Linked DNA regions of Homo sapiens: all the other regions are linked to region 1. The links come from fine-mapping of genetic effects on gene expression. A gene starts in region 1. Each other region holds a variant in brackets. All regions are shown on one strand. Distances are between the middles of the regions.

Evidence for each region.
Region 2: its variant is fine-mapped to the expression of SHLD1 in whole blood (TOPMed, PIP above 0.99).
Region 3: its variant is fine-mapped to the expression of SHLD1 in whole blood (INTERVAL, PIP 0.96).
Region 4: its variant is fine-mapped to the expression of SHLD1 in whole blood (TOPMed, PIP above 0.99).

Annotation. Positions count from the first base shown.
Region 1 is chr20:5,747,434-5,752,695 of GRCh38, forward strand. SHLD1 (shieldin complex subunit 1) reads left to right here and starts at 2,968. Exons shown (of 3, transcript NM_152504.4): 1 at 2,968-3,046. RefSeq lists an enhancer at 2,794-2,843.
Region 2 is chr20:5,819,243-5,824,242 of GRCh38, forward strand. All of the region lies in intron 2 of SHLD1 (shieldin complex subunit 1), which reads left to right. Among named protein-coding and RNA genes, the nearest start is that of SHLD1, 71 kb to the left of the region's middle. RefSeq lists an enhancer at 3,586-3,725. The variant T/C (reference allele first, on the strand shown) is at 2,526.
Region 3 is chr20:5,808,251-5,813,250 of GRCh38, forward strand. All of the region lies in intron 2 of SHLD1 (shieldin complex subunit 1), which reads left to right. Among named protein-coding and RNA genes, the nearest start is that of SHLD1, 60 kb to the left of the region's middle. The variant C/T (reference allele first, on the strand shown) is at 2,170.
Region 4 is chr20:5,776,059-5,781,058 of GRCh38, forward strand. All of the region lies in intron 2 of SHLD1 (shieldin complex subunit 1), which reads left to right. Among named protein-coding and RNA genes, the nearest start is that of SHLD1, 28 kb to the left of the region's middle. The variant A/G (reference allele first, on the strand shown) is at 2,867.

The DNA of each region.
Region 1 (5,262 bases):
GAGTCACTGAGCTGGGCTCTGAAATACAAGCAGAGAAAAAGATAAACGTGGTCTTTGCCTTTGAGATACTTACAGTTTGGTGGGAAAAGCAGAAAGGACAAAGGAGTTTAGAGCAATCTGGGTAAACAGAGGAAAGTGAGCTATTCTTGCAAGGGACCACTAACTCTTTTCAGATAAGTCAGAGAAGGTTCCTGGAGGAAAAATTGGTTAAAGCTGAGATTGTAAGGAAGATAAACATCAAAGAAGAGAGAAGAGTGTTCGTAAGGGAAGAAATTGCATGGGGGAAGAGCTCAGAATTGAGAGAAGGCAAGCATGGAGTATTTAAGGAAAAGAAAGTCCGGGCATGGTGGCTCACACCTGTAATCCCAGCACTTTGGGAGGCCAAGGTGGCGGATCATCTGAGGTCTGGAGTTCGAGACCAGCCTGACCAACATGGTGAAAACCCATCTCTACTAAAAATAAAAAAATTAGCTGGGCATGGTGGCACATGCCTGTAATCCCAGCTGCTCAGGAGGCTGAGGCAGGAGAATTGCTTGAACCCGGGAGGCAGAGGTTGCAGTGAGCCAAGATCGCGCCACTGCACTCCAGCCTGGGCGACACAGTGAGACTCCATCTCCAAAAAATAAATAAATAAATAAATAAATAAAAGGAAAAGAAAATAGTGTATAGGTAAAATATTTATCTTAAGTCCAGGACTCCTAATTTATGGGTTATTATTCCAATTTAGGCATCGATAGGAGGCTATGAGTATACACTACTCTTTCAAGAAAATGGTGAAAGGGGAAAAGAGCCCTCAGTTTTGTTAAATTTTATAAGAGGCAATTGATTTGGTCTGACCTCCTCCACTAGGCCCCAGCAGGCCAGGCCAAATCAGAACTGAGTTACTTGTGCTAAGTGCCATGTAATCAAACTGAACTTTGAAACAAGCCCATCTTCCAGAAAACGGGAGATTCCAGTCAATCTGAGTAAATATAATAAGGAAGTCTTCTCTGTTTTAACCCTACAAGGAAAGTAACTTTGAAATGATCAATTTGCAGGGCCGGGTGCGGTGGCTCATGGCTGTAATCACAGCACTTTGGGAGGCCCAGGCGGGAAAATCACTTGAGATCAGGAGTTCAAGACTAGTCTGGCCAACATGGCAAAACCCTGTCTCTACTAGAAATACAAAAATTAGCCGGGCATGGTGGTGCACGCCTGTGATCCAGGTACTAGGGAGGCTGACACACAAGAATCACTTTAACTCAGGAGATGGAAGTTGAGATCGCACCAGGACACTCCAGCCTGGACGACAGAGTAAGACTGTCTCAAAAAAAAAAAGAAAAAAAAAAGGACGATCAATTTGCTTTTTGTTCAAATCTCTTTCTGCATTCTTTAGCCCCTTTTCTGCCTATGAAGCTAACCTTGTCTGCTCAGCTCATTGGAACATTCAATCTTATAGAATGAGATGCTGCCTGATTCTAGAATTGTAAACAAAAGCCAATTAGATCTTTAAGCTAAATCTTAATTTTGTAATTTTGTCTTTAGACAGTCTCTTTTTTGTGGTCCTGCAGTTGTGGCAGTTATGTAGTTATCTGCATGCATCAGAATATTACAATATTTTCATCCTCATCTTTAATTTCTACTTTTCATATTTTTAAAATGTAGACATTCAAGTTTATTTATTTATTTATTAAAACCATTTTGTAGGCCGGGCACGGTGGCTCACGCCTGTAATCCCAGCACTTTGGGAGGCCCAGGCAGGCGGATCACGAGGCCAGGAGATCGAGACCATCCTGGCTAACACGGTGAAACCCCGTCTCTACTAAAAATACAAAAAATTAGCCGGGCGTGGTAGCGGGCGCCTGTAGTCCCAGCTACTTGGGAGGCTGAGGCAGGAGAATGGCGTGAACCCGGGAGGCGGAGCTTGCAGTGAGCCGAGATGGCGCCACCGCACTCCAGCCTGGGCAACAGAGCGAGACTCCGTCTCAAAAAAAAAAAAACAAAACCATTTTGTAGAGACAAGGTCTCCACTGTGTTGCCCAGGTGGGTCTTGAACTCCTTGCCTCAAGTAATCCTCCCATCTTGGCCTCCCAAAGCAGTGGGATTACAGGGGCATGCCACCCCACCCTCTCCAAGACATTGAATTTTATTTATTTTTTTTTTTGAGACGGAGTTTCGCTCTCGTTGCCCAGGCTGGAGTGCAATGGCACGATCTTGGCTCACCACAACCTCCACCTTCTGGGTTCAAGCGATTCTCCTGCCTTAGTCTCCCGGGTAGCTGCGATTACAGGCTGCACCACCACACCCAGCTAATTTTGTATTTTTAGTAGAGACAGGGTTTCTCTGTTGGTAAGGCTGGTCTCGAACTCCCGACCTCAGGTGATCCTCCTGCCTCGGCCTACCAAAGTGCTGGGATTACAGGCGTGAGCCACTGAGCCCAGACGAATTTTTTTTTTTAAAAGGCAAGGTCTAGCTCTGTTGCCCAGGCTGGACTGCAGTGGCAAGAACATGGCCAACTGCAGCCTTGACCTCTCAGGCTCAAGCAATTCTCCCACCTCAGCCCCCCAACTACCTGGGCCTACAGACATGTGCCACCATGCCTCGCTAATTAAAAAAAAATTTTTTTTGTAGAGACAGTGTCTCCCTATGTTGCCCAGGCTGGTCTCAAACTCCTGGCCTCAAGTGATCCGTCTCAGCCTCCCAAAGTGCTGGGACTACAGGCGTAAGCCACCGCTCCCGGCCAACATTTAAATTTTTGAATATTTTTTCTGTTCCCTTAGGGTTTACCAAGCACATTTATCGACAAGCCTCCTCAGGAAATTGCCCAAAATAGCCACATGTGGCAAGCCTCATTGACAGGCCAAAAGCCTCAGTCAACATGGCCGCGACCGGCTTCCATTGCCCTTCACTGCCCGCAGTAAGGATGGCTCCGGTGACTTCCTTCGAACCTCACATTTCCCATAAAAAAGATGGCGCCATTGCTTCCGCGTTCCGGTTGCGGATGGTGAGTGTGTCGGGGGGCTTGGCGGCTTTTCTCCTCAGTTTTCTGGAGTGCTTTGGAGGAGAGGTAAGCGCGGGATGGGATGGGGGGGGGTTGGAGTGGTGGGGGCGGGGGTCACAGCAATGCATCTGATCGTTCTCTCTCAATTAGGAAGTTATGGAGGCTTTCCTAGGCATGTCAGGATTTCCTGCTAGCTCCCCGCCCCTTCCGCCCCAACACACGGTGTCTGCAGCCTGTGCTTTGGGGAATTTTGGGAATTTGTGGATAGTGAGTATGGATAAGCTTCGGTTTTGTTGTTTTTTTTTAAATTTTTTCAGTGACCTGCCACTTCAGGAGGTTCTGCTAAAAAACCAACAAACAAAAAAACAGCTTTCTTGGGAAATTTCTATTCACCTACTAAGTAAAATTTGCCCATTTAAAGCGTAAAAAAAAATCAAGCCTAGCATAGTGGCATTCGCCTGTAGTTCCAGCTGCTCAGGAGACTGAGGTGGGAGAATCGCTTGTGCCCCGGAGTTCCAGGCTGCAGTGAGCCCAGATCGCGCCACTGCACTCCAGCCTGGAAGACAGAGCAAGACAACGTACCCAAAAATAAATAATAAAGGGTAACATTAAGGGTTTTTTTGTTGTTGTTGACAGAATTGTGCATCTATTACTGTGATCTCATTTTAGAATACTTTCATCACTCCAAAGAAAAATCCTGCCTCCAGTAGCAGTCATTCTACATTCACCACGTCCACTCCGCCTCAAGTCCTAGACAATTGCTAGTATACTTTCTGTCTGTATAGCCTTGCCAATTCGCACGTTTGATATAAATGAAATCATACAGTGCAGCTGGCTTCTTTCATTAAGTATAATGTCAATGTTTTTGTGACTAGCTTCTTTCATGACTTTTGTTCTTTTTTTAAACGGAGTCTCATGACTCTCACTCTGTAGCCCAGGCTGGAGTATAGTGGCACGATCTTGGCTCACTGCAACCTCTGCTGCCCAGGTTCAAGCTAGTCTCCTGCCTGAGCCTCCCGAGTAGCTGGGACTACAGGCGCCTGCCACCACGTTCGACTAATTTTTGTATTTTTAGTAGAGACGAGGTTTCACCATCTTGGCCAGGCTGGTCTTGAACTCCTCAGCTCTTGATCAACCTGCCTCAGCCTCTCAAAGTGCTGAGATTACAGGTGTGAGCCACCACGCCCGGCTATCTTCTTATACTATGTATAATATTTTCAAAGCTTGTCTTTGTATCATGTGTCAGACTGTTAGCAAATAAATAAAACTCTGTAAACTATTTTAAAGCGGTTTATTCTGAGCCAGTATGATTGACCATCGCCCAGAGAGAAAACACAAACCCAAAAAGTCTTTAGTAAGTGATCCCGAGGCAGTTGGGTTATAGTTTGTTTTTTTTACATTTTAGGGAGACAGGAGTTAACAGGCAAAGACATAAATCAATACATGGAAGGTATACATTGGTTAGACCCAAAAAGGTGGATATGTCCAAGGGTGGTCTTAGAAGTCTTAGGTGGATTTTAGGGATTCTTTAGCTGACAGTTGCTTGAGAGAGTTAAGCTTTGTCTAAAGACTTGAAGTCAGTAGAAAAGAATGCTTGAACTAAGATAAGGGAGTTGTGTGGTTCAAGGTCCTTGTTACGTAGATGAAGTGTGAGTAGCAGCCTCAGAGAATAGATGGGCTAGGTGCCATGACTAGAGATGGGCTGGGCTCCATGGCTCACACCTGTAATCTCAACGCTTTGTGAGGCCGTGGCAGGCAGATCACTTGAGGTCAGGAGTTCAAGACCAGCCTGGCCAACATGATGAAACACCATCTCTACGAAAAATAAAAAAATTAGCCAGGCACGGTGGCGTGCGCCTGTAATCCCAGCTACTTGGAAGGCTGAGACACAAGAATTGCTTGAACCCAGGAGACAAAGGTTGCAGTGAGCTGAGATCGCACTACTGCACTCTAGCCTGGATGACAGAGTGAGACTCCATCTCAAAAAAAAAAAAAACAAAAAAGAGAGAATAGATGGTAAATGTCTCTTTTTGGAAATTTAGGTGTCAGAATTAATCTTTCCTGGATCTGGGAAAGGCCTAGAAAAGGAAATCCTGGCTGCATTAATGGAGATTCTCTACAGATGCAAATTTCTGTTACAAAAGACAGCTTTGTAGCTTTGTAGGGCCATTTTAAAATATGTCAAAGAAATATATTTTGGGGTTTTTTTTTTTTTTTTTTGAGGCAGAGTCTTTGTTCTGTCACCCAAACTGGAGTGCAGTAGTGCGATCTCGGCTCACTGC
Region 2 (5,000 bases), 72 kb after region 1:
TTGGTTCATCTGGGCATGCTCAGGTTATGAGACCTGAGGGTCCGTGACAACTGAAAAACAACTCACAACTTTGTTACGTAAAAGTTGAACCAGATTGATCTGGTGTGACCACACTCTTACCCTTATCTGTTATTTCTCATTCCAAACTTTGCTTATTAACTGTAATGTTTGCCTTTGTAATTGCTTCACTTTCATCACATATAAGAAGTACTCAATGAATGCTTACTGATTTCATGCACTGTAGGAACAACACCGACTATTGTCATGTTGGCTGTTGTCATATTAAAACATCATGTAGGCCAGTCATGGTGGTTCACATCTGTAATCCCAGCACTTTGGGAGGCTGAGACAGGAGGATCCTTTGAGGTCAGGAGTTCGAGACCAGCCTGGGCAACACAGCAAGACCCTGTTTCTACAAAAAATAAAAAAATTAGCCAGGCATGGTGGAGTACACCTTTAGTCCTAGCTACTTGGGAGGTTGAGGCAGGAGGATGGCTTGAGCCCAGGAAGCCAGGGCTGCAGTGAGCCATGATGGTGCAACTGCACTCCAGCCTGAATGACAGCGTGAGACCCAGTCTCTTAAAAACAACAACAATAAAATCATCATGTAACTTGCTAAGACAGCCACACCTTTGTGTTGTGCCTAAAAAATTACTGAGTTCTGGTGGATACATAATGAGGACTTGACAGTGTTTTTTTTTTGTTTTTTGTTTTGTTTTTAGAAGGAGTCTTGCTCTGTCGCCCAGACAGGCTGGAGTGCAGTGCTGTGATCTCAGCTCACTGCAACCTCCATCTCCTGGGTTCAAGTGATTATCCCGCCTCAGCCTCCCCAGTAGCTGGGATTACAGGCGTGTGCCACCATGCCTGGCTGATTTTTCTATTTTTAGTAGAGACAAGGTTTCACCATGTTGGTTGTCCAGGCTTGTCTCCTGACCTCAGGTGATCCGCCCACCTCGGCCTCCCAAAGTGCTGGGATTATAGGCGTGAGCCACCATGCCCAGCCAGTCTTATTAAATGCTTCAAATATATGTCACATTCAGCTTCATGTCCCTGATGGTTCCCTGCACCATGCTACGCCAATAAACACTCAACGGATACTCAACGGATACAAAAGAGTATTTGGTAGATCTTCAGAGACGGAAAGCAAATTCAGTGCCTTTATTCAGCAAAAATTCAATGAGCAGCTGCTATGTGCTGGACACTGTGCTAGCCCCTGGGGATGAAGTGTGAATTAAAGGCAGTGTCTGCCCTCTTGAAGTTCACCACCCAGTGATAGAACACCCAAGAAACCAGCCTCCAAGATGTTCAGATTAAAAGAAATTCTTCCACAGTGACATTTTCACCAGGCAAACTCAGAGTTGTTTGACATGAGAAGGTTTAAAAAAGGATAGTTGTGAAAGACCAGGCAAAGTTCACAAAGTGAAGAAGGGAAAATATTATTTCAGACTGATATTAAATGATGGCCTAGCCTGCTGCCATACTGTCTCACAGGGAAAAGTTTTATTTATGTCTCCTTTGATCTTTTCTCCTTTTTGTCTCTAGGTTTGATGTACAAGCTTTAGCTTGGGCCTTTGATTTACAGTGTTCTGGAGAAAGAGACCAGGGATGACAAAGCCAACCAGGCTGTTACCTAAAAACCTGATATATTGTCCTAGATCTAGGCTGTCTTAGAGCTACACAAAGAATTTCCAGCAGACTGCTCAGGAAGAGCCTGCTGGGAAGGCAGTTCCCCTAAAGTCCCATAAAATAAAGAGCTTCCCAGTCCTTCTTTGATATCCACGGTTTGCTTAAGTATTGGATGTTAAGGCAGCAACTTCTAGTCCTGTGGAAAATCTTTTAATATCTGTGCTTAATCAACTGAGAAAATAAAAATTTATAGATCCATCAATGACAAATATATTAAACATGGGGCTTTAAAAATTGCCTGGAAGTCTGTGACCAACATTTTTTTAGCCTGTAAAATATAGTTTGTTTAAACTTATTAAGGCTGGGCGTGGTGGTGGCTCACGCCTATAATCCCAGCACTTTGGGAGGCTGAGGTGGGCGGATCACCTGAGGTCAGGAGTTCGAGACCAGACTGGCCAACATGGTGAAACCCCGTTTCTACTAAAAATACAAAAATCAGCCGGGCGTGGTGGTGTGCACCTATAATCCCAGCTGCTCAGGAGGTTGAGGCACGAGAATCGCTTGAACCAGGAGGCGGAGGTTGCAGTGAGCTGAGATCACACCACTGCACTCCAGCCTGGGTGACAGAGCATGACTCTATCTCAAAACAAAACAAAACAAAACAAAAAAACTTGATTATAGTATACTGGATATTGAGGGATAGGGAATTTAGTTATCAGCTGGGAGTAATAACAAATTTCTGGAAAACTCAAACATCGATCATATCAGAGTTTCTGAGGATCAGAAATCCAGGAGGGGCTTAATAGGGTAGTTCTGGCTCAGGGTCTGTCATGAGGTGGCCGCCAAGTGAAACCTTCCCTGGAGCTGGAAGAGCTGCTTCAGAGAAGACTGCCACCGGA[T/C]GCTTGGCTGGAGTTTTCAGTTTTTCTCCACATGGGCCTCTCCCAGGGCTGCTGAGTGTCCTTGAACTGTGGCAGTCAGCTTCCCCACAGTGAGTCGTGAGAGAGGGAGACAGCCAAACAGAAGCCCTGGAGTCTTTCATGATCTCATCTCAGACATGATGGGCCATCTCCTCTGCTGCACTCGACAGTCATACAGACCAACCCTGGGACCACATGCAAGGGGACCACCTGAGGGTGTGAGTGCTAGGAGGTGAGGAGCCATCCTGGATGCTGGCTACCTCATAGGTGACTGGCCAGGCAAAGTTTATTAACTAAAAGTTCTTTGTGTTGACTCAGGTGAACTAACATTTACTGCTTCAGTTGTTCATTTAATTTAATTTTCTTGAGAGATTTAAAGTAAGTGCTCAAAGCCAGGCATGGTGGCTCATGCCTGTAATCCCAGCACTTTGGGAGCCCAAGGCGGGCAGATCACCTGAGGTCAGGAGTTTGACACCAGCCCAGCCAACACGATGAAACCCCATCTCTACTAAAAATACAGAAAATTAGCCGGGCGTGGTGACGGGTGCCTGTAGTGCCAGCTACTTGGGAGGCTGAGGCAGGAGAATCACTTGAACCTGGGAGGCAGAGGCTGCAGTGAACCAAGATCGCACCACTGCACTCCAGCCTGGGCTACAGAGTGAGACTCTATCTCAAAAAAATTAATTAATTAAAAATAAATAAATGAATAAAGTGAGTGCTCAGAGCTGTGTTGCTTTGTTGTGTGCATGTGTGTGAGTGTGTGTGCTTGTGTCCCTAAGTCCCAGCAGTGAGACAAATTGTGTGGTTCCTTATCGTACCTGAGAAGCAGGGAGCAGCCACCAAGAAGACTGTTACAGTGGGTGAGTTGTTTATGCCCTGCTTAAGGCCAGCCCCTCCACTTAATCTTCATCTCCTCTCTCCTAGTCATGGACTTCACACCCACCGTTAACCCCTCACTCCTGCATTATCAATCTTTCTCTCTTGACTGGCTCATTCTTGGCTACATACAAAGATGATGTAATATTTCCCATCTAAAAAAAAAAATCCATGACCCCAGGTTCCTCTTTAGGTCCTGCCCTGTTTCTCTGTTCCTTTTTATAGCAGAAGGCTATGAAAGATGTGTCTTATTTGTCTATACTCACTCTCTCCACCTCTTACCTTCCCGATTTCTCTCCAACCCACTCCAGTCACACTTTTGCCTTCCCTCCCCCACCCCGCCCCCACCCCCATATATACTCCACCACTGCTATTGTTATGGAACTGTGGTGTCTTTTGTCCTTCCAAATCCAGTGGTCGGTTCCCAGTCCTTTGTATTTGACCAAGCAGCAGCGTTTTACACTGTTGATCCCCCCCTTCCCGGATACCTGTTCTTCCCTTGGCTCCTGGGACCCCTCCCTCAGCTTCTCCTCCTGCCCTCACTGGCTGCTGTTTCTCATCCTCCTCTGCTGGCTCTTCAAGGCACTTCTTACTGACCTCAGGCCTCAGGCCTCTTCCCTCCACCCCTCTGCCTTCAGTCCCTTTTGTATTTTTTTGTAGAGACAGGATTTTGGCATGTTGGCCAGATTGGTCTCAAACTCCTGACCTCAAGTGATCCACCTGACTCGGCTTCCCAAAGGCATGAGTCATAGTGCCTGGTCTAGCATAGACTTGTTTTTTGTTGTTTTTTGTTTTTTTTTTTTTGAGATGGAGTTTTGCTGTTGTCACCAGGCCGGAGTGTAATGACGCGATCTCAGCTCACTATAACCTCTGCCTCCTGGGTTCAAGCAATTTTCCTGCCTCAGCCTTCCTAGTAGCTGGGATTACAGGCGCCCGCCACCACACCCAGTTAATTTTTGTATTTTTAGTAGAGACAGGGTTTCACCATGTTGGCCAGGCTGGTCTCGAACTCCTGTCCTCAAGTGATCTGCCCACCTCAGCCTCCCACACTGTTGGGATTACAGGCATGAGTCACCGCGCCCAGCCAAAAATCTCATAATGTTCTAAGAAAGTTTACACAGTTGTGTTGGGCTGCATTCAAAGCCATCCTGGGTTGCATGGGCAAGCTTCCTCCACTGCCTGCATCTGTCCCCATAGGCCACCTCTAGAATGTGTTCCAAATAGAGTAATGTCTCACCACCTCCTCCACTCTACCCAAACCCCAGCCACCATCTTCCACAACTCCTGCAGTAGCCTCGTACCTGGGCTCCAGTCCCATGCTTGCCCTCCTTGGTCTCCTTTCCAGCAGCAGCACCAGAATGTCACTTCCACCTGCTTAAAACCTTTCAGTGCGCTTAGGACACAATCCAAGCTGCTCCATCAGCTCTCTGGGCCCCACAGGATCTGGCTTCTCCCTGCCTGGCTGTGACTGCTTCTCCCACCTCTTCCCAGCCGCACTGGCCTTCTTTCTGGTCTTCACACATAAGCTCACTCCCACCTCCGGGATTTTGCACTTGCTGGTCCCTTAGTCTGGAATGTTCT
Region 3 (5,000 bases), 61 kb after region 1:
GCAAGACTCCATCTCAAAAAAAAAAGAAACGTAAAAGTCCTAGGTCTTCATGCTTCTCCCCAGAAGTAATTATTGTAGATAACTTTTGTGTATCCTTCCATATACACACCTACAGATCTATATACATAAATATAGATAGACATACATACATATGTACATGTGTATATTGTACACACACAAACAGCACGTATATCTTTTTTTCTAAATACCAATGGAATTTTACCAAAATATTATCTTGCATCTTGCCCTTTTTTCACTTATTGCTATAATAAGGCAGCTTGCCATGTTGGTACATGTAGCTCTCTCATATTTTTACTGTCTGCATAGTATCCCATTGTATGATTGGATCATAGTTTATTTAACGAGATGTCTATTGATGGATGTTTAGATTGACCCATGTTTTTACTCATAAACAATCTTGCAGGGAATCTCCTCTTACACAGCTTATCTAATGCATTTGGTGAATGAATATTCTCATTCATGGAGTCAAACTTGGTAACTATATTGTTGTATTTTGAATATTAGTGATTTAGTGGATTTAAGCAGAAAATATTTTAATGAAATTTAATGGCTAAGTAACAAAAGATCGCCTTTATTTGCACAAGAAACATTCTTACAGATGGTGAAAGTGTTACAGAAGCCAGTTTAGTTGGGTTAATATTATCGGTTAGGAGTTAATTCACAGTAAAGTGTTTGTTTTAGAACATCAAATTAATATGCCATGAAGGAATTTAAGGGGGTGGCATTTTTTATGAGTTGCCATAGTGGCAGATACAGAGTTGTGGCACATACCTCATGAGAATGTACTTCCAGAGGTAGAACTAAAAAAGAATAATTTCTCATAAGAGGAGGTGAGAAATGTTGGGGGTGGATTTTTCTTTCTAAAACCATGCTCATAAGTGATGAAAAGGACAGCTTTTAAAAATCACCAAAGAACTAAATGTATGACTAAATAGTGGAAAGGATCTTAACGTACATGTTTGCACAAAAATAAGAAACTCATTTTAATTCCATGAAACAAATACTAACTATGGTTTAGAGTGAATCTTGACAGCATTCATAGATATGGCTCTCCTTAAATAGACTCTTAGAATTAGATGTATTTGCTCTGAGCTCAGAGTTAAATCCTCATTTCCCCTTATGTCACACCCTACTGCCAAGTGTCTGATTAGCAGCATCCTGAAAGGAAAAGCCGGCTGCCTCCCCTGAAGTGGGTCCCCAGTTCTGTAGTCCAGCTTGCTCCAGAGGTTATTGTCACTCTGCCACCAAAAACAACCAATACAGTCAAAGCTCAGCAGCTCCAGCTCTAGCTGGATGAATTATCTTCTAACCACTCTTACCCCACATTGTACAACTGCATCCATCCTTCCTCAGTTGTACAGACAACTTAAATATTTCCTCTACACCATTGGTTCTCAACCAGTGGCCGTTGCCCCGTGCTGCCACCACCAGGGGACATTTGGTGGAGTTTGGAGACATTTTTGGTTGTTAAAGCCATAGGATGCTACTGACATATAGTCGGGAGAGGCCAGGGATGCTTCTAAATATCCTGCAATGCACAGAATAGTTCCCCCACCCAACAAAGAATTATCTAGCCCGATAGCGCTGAGGGTATGAAACCCTGCTGTACACAGTGATGTCACATACTGAGGTCTCATTGTTATTTCAGTTTTCTGGCATATCTAGTTTATCACATACTACACCTTTGTCAAAAATTGGATTGTTCGGCCAGGCGCAGTGGCTCACACCTGTAATCCCAGCACTTTGGGAGGCCGAGGCAGGCAGATCATGAAGTCAGGAGTTCTAGACCAGCCTGGCCAACATGGTGAAACCCCATCTCTACTAAAAATACAAAAATTAGCCAGGCGTGATGCTGCGCGCCTGTAATCGCAGCTACTTGGGAGGCTGAGGGAGGAGAACTGCTTGAACCCGGGTGGTGGAGGTTGCAGTGAGCCAAGATCGTGCCACTGCACTCCAGCCTGGGTGACAAAGCAAGACTCTGTCTCGGAAAAAAAAAAAAATTGTATTGTTCAATAATGGACCACCTTAGACATCGAGTAACTAAGGGGACTGATACTGTGGTAGAGTGATCTTAGCATTAGGCTAGGTGGCAATTAGGAGATAGGTGTTCTAATCTCATTATTGCCTCTAATTAGCTATGGGACCTTC[C/T]GAGCCATTTAATTATCTTTTGTGAAATGAGAGCATTTGCCTAAGTTGCCTAGAGTCTTTCTAAGTCTTAAAATATTCCATTACTCTGCCATTGCACATATATTTTTTAAGTGGGATAAGGATGAACAGTAGGTACATACAGGTGTTCCATTGATTCTTTCTATTTCCCCTACCAATAGACGTATTTCTGTAGGCCTGGCATGATGGCTCACGCCTATAATCCCAGCACCTTGGGAGGCTGAGGTAAGCAGATCACTTGAGATCAAGAGTTTTGAGACCAGACTGGCCAACGTGGTGAAACCATGTCTCCACAAAAAATACAAAGGTTAGCCAGGCATGGTGGTGCATGCCTGTAACTACATCCCAGCTACTTGGGTGGCTGAGGCAGGAGAATCGCTTGAACCCAGGAGGTGGAGGTTACAGTGAGCAGATGTCATGCCACTGCACTCCAGAGTGAGACTCTGTCTCAAAAAAAAAAAAAAAAGATAATTCTGTTATATAATCTTTTGTTAACTCTGCAGATGTCCTGGCTTTAAGATCGTCCTGTATGATCATCCAATGCTGAGAAGTGCTGATGACCTAATACTAATATATCACATAAGACACTTCATTTTCCAGCAACAGTAATATATAGCATTAGTTCATTCATACATCTACTTTTGATCAGACATTTACTGAGGGGTGATCGATGCCAAGTATTTGATCCATATAGTAATCCTGCAGCCAGGCAGGAAAAGGCTTATTCTCTCCAAATTACGTACCAGAAGCCACAGCTCAGAGAGATGTCCCAGGTCATATGACTCCATAAGTGACAGTTCCAAGACAGATGTTTCCAGGACTCCCTTAATTCTTGGAGAGAGCACCTTCCTTCTGTGATCTAGCGAAGTCATAGGACAGGAGAGCCACAGCCAGCAACTGAGAGTGGAAACTTTACTTATCAGATTAGAAAACATATGCCCCCAGAAAGGTGAAATCTCACAAAATAGACACAAACCTCAGGAGTTTTAATTAAAAAGGACAGCTTTTTAATTCCCTTCTCTTCCAGTTCTCTAAATAATGTATTTCTGACATTAAGTGTATTAGGACCAGACTGGTGTCTTCTGGCAGTAGAATGGTAGACAAAAAAAAATGTGTTTTCAAGCTGGAGACCTGAGGCTGGGCATGGTGGCTCACGCCTGTAAAACCAGTGCTTTGGGAGACCAAGGAGGGAGGATTGCTTGAGCCCAGGAGTTCAAGACCAGCCTGGGGAACATAGTGAGACTGTGTCTCTACAAAAAAATTTAAAAATTAGCCAGGTGTGGTGGTGCACACCTTTGGTCCCAACTATTTGGGAGACTGAGGTGGGAGGAGCACTTGAGCCCAGGAGGTCGAGGCTGCAGTGAGCCATGACCATGCCACTGCACTCCAGCCTGGGCAACAATGTGAAACTGTGTCTCTGAAAAAAAAAAAAATGAATTTGAACACCTGCACTAAACCCCATCTCCACCACTGCCGGCTGTATAACCCAAGGCGAGTTACTTTCTCTTAAGCCTTAATTTTCTCATCTGTAAAATGGGGATTACTAATACTTAGTTCATAGGATTGCTATGAAGGGTAAGTGGGATAATATGTATCTGTAAGTCCTAGTCTAGGAACTTCTTTTTCTTTTTCTTTTTTTTTTCTTTTTTTTTCTTTTTTTTTTTGAGGACCCGACCTTTTATTTTGCCAAGCAAAAATCTTAAAAACAACCTATACCAATATCTCCACAAATCTATTAGCATTTCATAAAAGAAAGGATATTTTAACATTCAAAATGAAAGAAGGACCTAATCCCAAAATAAAGATCAGTTTTCTGTAGTCCCTAGTGTTTTTTTCTCACGTATCCATGGACTAGTAAGGGTTTCATCATGGCCTAGCATGAGTCCATAGGCCACTGCTTGGAAAACTTCTATGTATCCAGTATACAATGCACTGATTACTGTGCTCAGTGCTTAACAGGCAACTGGAAGATGGTAAGAACTATTATTAATAACAGACACTTAGAGGTTTTGATATATGTAACTTTAGAGTCCTTCTTTCCATTTCTAAAAATTCCGACAATTTTTGAACAAGTGAACGAGTGGCCTCTTGTAAGACAACAGAGCCAGAAGTCCTCAGGAGCTCAGTACAATTGTGTCTTTGCTTTATAAAATAAATCATCATGAATGAGAAGTAGCTTTGCCATGTGTATTACTTTCACCAGGTATTATGCCTCACTAAATGCAGAGTTCTTTTCTGTTTCTCCGTATTATGTTAGATTGTTTACCTGAACCCTGATGGCTAGCTTCTTTACAGGGTTGTGAATGTTGTCCCTTCAGTCATTAGCGAAATGCTTATTGTGTATCTACTATGCTGCAGACCCTGTTCCTAGGGTCGGGGATACACAGTGAACAAAATAGACAAAGGCTCTCCCTCTCTTTAAGGGGCTTTTTATTTTTATTTTTATTTTTTTATTGAGACGGGGTCTCACTCTGTCACCCAGGCTGGAGTGCAGTGATATAATCGTGGCTTACCACAGCCTCAACCTCCCAGGCTCAGGTGACACTCCTACCTCAGCCTCCTAAGTACCTGGGACCACAGGTGTGTGCCACCATGCCTGGCTATTTTTTTCTATTTTTAGTAGAGGTGGGGTTTCACCATGTTGCCCCGGCTGCTCTAGAACTTCTGGGCTCAAGTGATCCACTCGCCTCGACCTCCCAAAGTGCTGGGATTACAGGCGTGAGTCACCATGCCTGGTCTTTAAAGGGCTTTTTAAATTCTAGTTCTTTGGCTGGGTGCTGTGGCTCACGTCTGTAATCCCAGCATTTTGGGAG
Region 4 (5,000 bases), 28 kb after region 1:
CTGGAATTACAGGTGAGCGCAACCACACCTGGCTAATTTTTGTGTTTTTAGTAGAGACGGGGTTCACCATGTTGGCCAGGCTGGTCTTGAACTCCTGACCTCAAGTGATCCACCCGCTGTGGTCATCCCAGGCATGAGCCACTGCTCTGGGATTACAGGCGTGAGCCACTGCGCCCAGCCAGCTCAGGCTTTTATCACAAATACCATACACTGGGTGGCTTCTCACAGCTCCAGAGGCTGGAAAGTCTAAGGTCAAGGTGCCAGCAGATTTGGTGTCTGGTGCTGTCCCTGTTCTTGATTTGTAGACAGCCACCGTCTTCCTGTGTCCTCATATGGCCTAGAGAGAGAGCCTCTTTCTCATGTCTCTTATAAGGGCACTAATGCCATCATGAGGCTTCCACCCTCAAAACTTAATTACCTCTAGCTGGGCACAGTGGCTCATGCCTGTAATCCCAGCACTTTGGGAGGCCGAGGCGGGTGCATCGCCTGAGGTCAGGGGTTCTAGACCAGCCTGGCCAACATGGTAAAACCCTGTCTCTAATAAAAATACAAAAATTAGCCGGGCGTGGTGGCAGGCGCCTGTAATCCCAGATACTCGGGGGCCTGAGGCAGGAGAATCACTTGAACCCAGGAGGTGGAGGTTGTAGTGAGCCAAGACCGCACCATTGCACTCCAGCCCCGGCAACAGAGCAAGACTCCGACTCAAAAATAATAATAATAATAAATAAGTAAGCATAAAAAAAAAGCATTCACATTGGTTTACTCATCCTACCCCATGGAAGGCTCTGGGTGTGATAATTGCTCTCTGCATACTCCACACTGCAGTGTTTTAGGGCACATTAATAGTGATCACTCCCATTTATTGAGCATTTACTACCTGTCAGGTTTTATACTGTCAGGCTCCATGCTAAATATTTCACAAACATCATCACTTTTTTTTTTTCTTTTCAAGACAGAGTCTCACTCTGTTGCCCAGGCTGAGTGCAGTGGCACAATCTCGGCTCACTGCAACCTCCACCTCCCTGGTTAAAGCAATTCTCCTGCCTCAGCCTCCTGAGTAGCTGGGATTACAGGCGTGCACCACCATGCCCAGCTAATATTTATATTTTTAGTAGAGATGAGGTTTCACCATGTTGGCAAGGCTGGTCTTGAACTCCTGACCTCAAGTGATCCACCTGCCTCAGCCTCCCAAAGTGTTGGGATTACAGGTGTGAGCCACCACACCCAGCCCAAACATCACCACTTTTAATTCTTATCACATACCTGAGAAGTGGAAATCATTCCCATTTAATAAGTGAGGAAACAAACTTGGAAAAGTTAGGAAACTTTCCCAGTGTCACTTAGCAAATGACAGAGCTGACTGAATCCAAAGGAAATGTTTCACTTTTTTTTTCTTTTTCGAGGTATGATCCTGCTTTGTTGCCCAGGCTGAAGTGCAGTATTGTGGTTCCCCTGGACTCAAGCAATCTTCCCTTCTCAGCCTCTGAAGTAGTTAAGACTATAGGCGTGTGTTATCCTGCCTAGCTAATTAAAAAAAATTTTATTTTTTTTTTTTGTTTAGAGATGAGATCTCACTATGTTGCCCAGGCTGGTCTTGAACTCCTGGGCCCAAGCGATCCTCCCGCCTCAACCTCTCAGTGTTGGGATTACAGGCATGAGCCACCACACCCAGCTAAAATCACATTGTTATTGGAAGAAAAAGAAAGCTTTTTCTAACCTGGGAAGTGACCAAGAGGATGATACCACTGAGACAAGGAACTGCTGCAAATAAATTTAGGCAAGTTTTGTTAACTTGATAGAACAAACACTTTGGAGAGGTGGAAGGAGTTTTAGGGAGGAATATTAACTTTTTGATACTATTTTATTCAAACTTAAACATTTTAAAACAATTTTTATTTTGCTGTGCACTCTGCAATTCTGTAGTACTTTTATATGTTTTGCCACAATACCCACTAGGTTTGTTTTTAAAAAGGACCAGGGCTGTGAGTGGTGGCTCATGCCTGTTATCTGGCATATCTGGTATATTATGAGGCTGAGGCAGGAGGATCCCTTTTTCTTTTTTTTTTTTTTTTTTTTGAGACAGAGTCTCGTTCTGTCGCCCAGGCTGGAGTGCAGTGGCGCGATCTCGGCTCACTGCAAGCTCCGCCTCCTGGGTTCACGCCATTCTCCTGCGTCAGCCTCCCAAGTAGCTAGGACTACAGGTGCCCACCACCATGCCTGGCTAGTTTTTTTTTTTTTTTTTGTATTTTTAGTAGAGATGAGGTTTCACCGTGTTAGCCAGGATGGTCTCGATCTCCTGACCTTGTGATCCGCTTGAGAGGATCCCTTGAGTTCAGGAGTTTGAGACCAGCCTGGACAACGTAGCAAAACCCTGTCTCTACTAAAAAAAAATTTAAAAATTAGCCGGGTGTGGTGGTACACACCTGTGGTTCCAGCTACTCTGGAGGCTGAGGTGGGAGAATCACTTGAGCCTGGGAGGTGGAGGTTGCAGTGAGCCATGATCGTGCTACTGCACCCCAACCTGGGCGACAGAGCAAGACCTTGTCAAAAAAAAAAAAAAAAATAAGGACCAGATCACCCAGAGCTTCCCAAGAACTAAGTGAGAATGGTATCTTTCAGCCATGACAGGAGCAGGGAATACACTAGAATCAAATGGAAGCCCAGCCGTTCTGTTATTTAATAACACCATCTCTAGTAGATCACCCTAAGCAGAAATAAACGTGCTCAGGTTTATCTATCACAAAGAGAACTTCATTTTAACATCACTAGGAGACTTTTACACAGCATGGAAGGCTGTTGATTTTTCTGTAAACATTCCAGAGCTACCTTTTGTGAGAAATTATCTACAAAAGTCAGTTAGGAGGCC[A/G]GATGCAGTGGCTCATGCCTGTAATCCCAGCACTTTGGGAGGGCGAAGCAGGTGTATCGCTTGAGGCCAGAAATTCAAGACCAGCCTGGACAACATGGTGAAATCTCATCTCTACTAAAAATACAAAAATCAGCCAGGCATGGTGGTGGGCACCTGTAATCCCAGCTACTGGGAGGCTGAGGCATGAGAATCACTTGAACCTGGGAGGTGGAGGCTGCAGTGAGCCAAGATGACACTACTGCACTCTAGTCTGGGCAACAGAGTGAGACTCTGTCTAAAAAAAAAAAAAAAAGTCAGTTAGGAGAGGTTATCACTGGTAATCTTGCTGTTACCAAGCAATGAACTTGAGGTGACAGCCTTAAACTCTGAAGGAGGTCACTGCCCTAACAGCCCAACCTGGTTTACTCCGACCTAACCATTTTCCACCTTAAGTTTCAGAATTGTCCAGGGGCCTGGGTTTTTCATTTATAAGTTGAGTCCATTTTCTTTTCCATGCCTCTTGTTCATAGGTAGCTGTAGTTACGGGTTCTCTCCCCATGGCCCTTCAGGAGGCTCTTGCCGACATTTTAATCTAATTCTGATGACTCTGGATCTATTGTTTGCTCAGAGACATGCCCACCTTTACACTAATCTCTACTGGGCCACCATTCTATCTCAGATTCTTAACACCTCCAGTTCCCAAGCCAGTTTGATGTTCTCTCTTGCTTACTTGCTGTTATGTGTTGTAAGGAAGTTGATCTTCCAGGGATTGGGAAATATAGCCAAGGTTTCCAGTTGGAGGGTCATTCAGGGTGACTCACCATTGGTCTCTGCCCATCCTGGTATTTACTCAGTGAGGCACACACTGTTGGCTACCTTCATGTAGCTTGTGCTTGGCTCAAAATAGAGTTGACTATCTCAAGAACTGGCAGAGTATGGCAGGTTGCTTACAGCTGAATGGGGGGTCTAAGGGTGAACTTGGGACCTGGCTCCCCCAGCTACTGGGTGAAATAGAGCCAAGCTTTGGTCATTAGGATTCATTAACTTGGCATAGTTTTTACAATTTCTGTTTTTTTTTTTTTTTTTTTTTTTGGAGACAGAGTCTTGCTCTGTCACCCAGGCTGGAGTGCAGTGGTGCAATCTCAGCTCACTGCAACCTCTGCTTCCCAGGCTCAAGTGATTCTCATGCCTCAGCCTCCCTAGTAGCTGGGATTACAGGGGTGCACCACCACACCCAGCTAATTTTTGTATTTTTAGTGGAGACAAGGTTTTGCCATGTTGGCCAGTCTGGTCTCAAACTCCTGGCCTCAAGTGATTTGCCCACCTCAGCCTCCCAAAGTGCTGAATTACAGGTGTGAGCCAGTGCACCCGGCTTGACTGTAAGAGTTCAGTCATATCATCTGTTATCAAATTCTTCAGTCAAAATCCAGACACAGAGTTGGCAAGGGGTTGGGGTTCACAGTGGAGGCGTGGCGTAGTCTTCTGGTGGCACAGCACAGCCCAGCAACAGGCACGCTGGAGAGAATACCCAGAAATCCAGGCAGGTGGCAGGCAGTGTGCAGGTGCCTTCTCAGTGAGTAGCAAGGTCCCAGCTTCCAGGTTGGAGTCAGTGTCACAGTTCTAACCCCTGGAAGAGTAGTAGGCCAAGGAAGGGTGACCTTAGATTTAGGATATAGCAAGGACCGCTGCAAAACCCAGTTACAAGAACATGGGCCCAGGCTTAGGCTTAACTTGTGTAAAGGATTCCCCATTTCACCTTGCAGCTGCCCCTGACCATGGGCCTATCCCTGCCCTGCTTTTCCCAGCCAGGCTTTTTGAAGGGGCTGCCTGCCTTCCTCCTCACTTCTTCATCTCAGGATTGCTCCTCATTCCCAGGCACATGGCCTCTACCTCCATTCCCCTCTGGACTAAGCCTGCCCTTACTCAGATGCCAATGATCTTCCCTAGGAGCCAAACTGGATGGACGCTTCTCTGTCCTTTTGCTATGTGCCCAACTGCCGCATCACTGTTCATACTCTGGAGGAGCAAATTAGTAGCAAGGACATGAGACTTAAGAGCACTTTCCAGAAAACTACTGGGCTGATAAGAATCTGAGAGTGTTAGAAAAACCTCAAAAGCCTTAGTCATTCCAGTATGAGTATGTAAAGATGGGTAA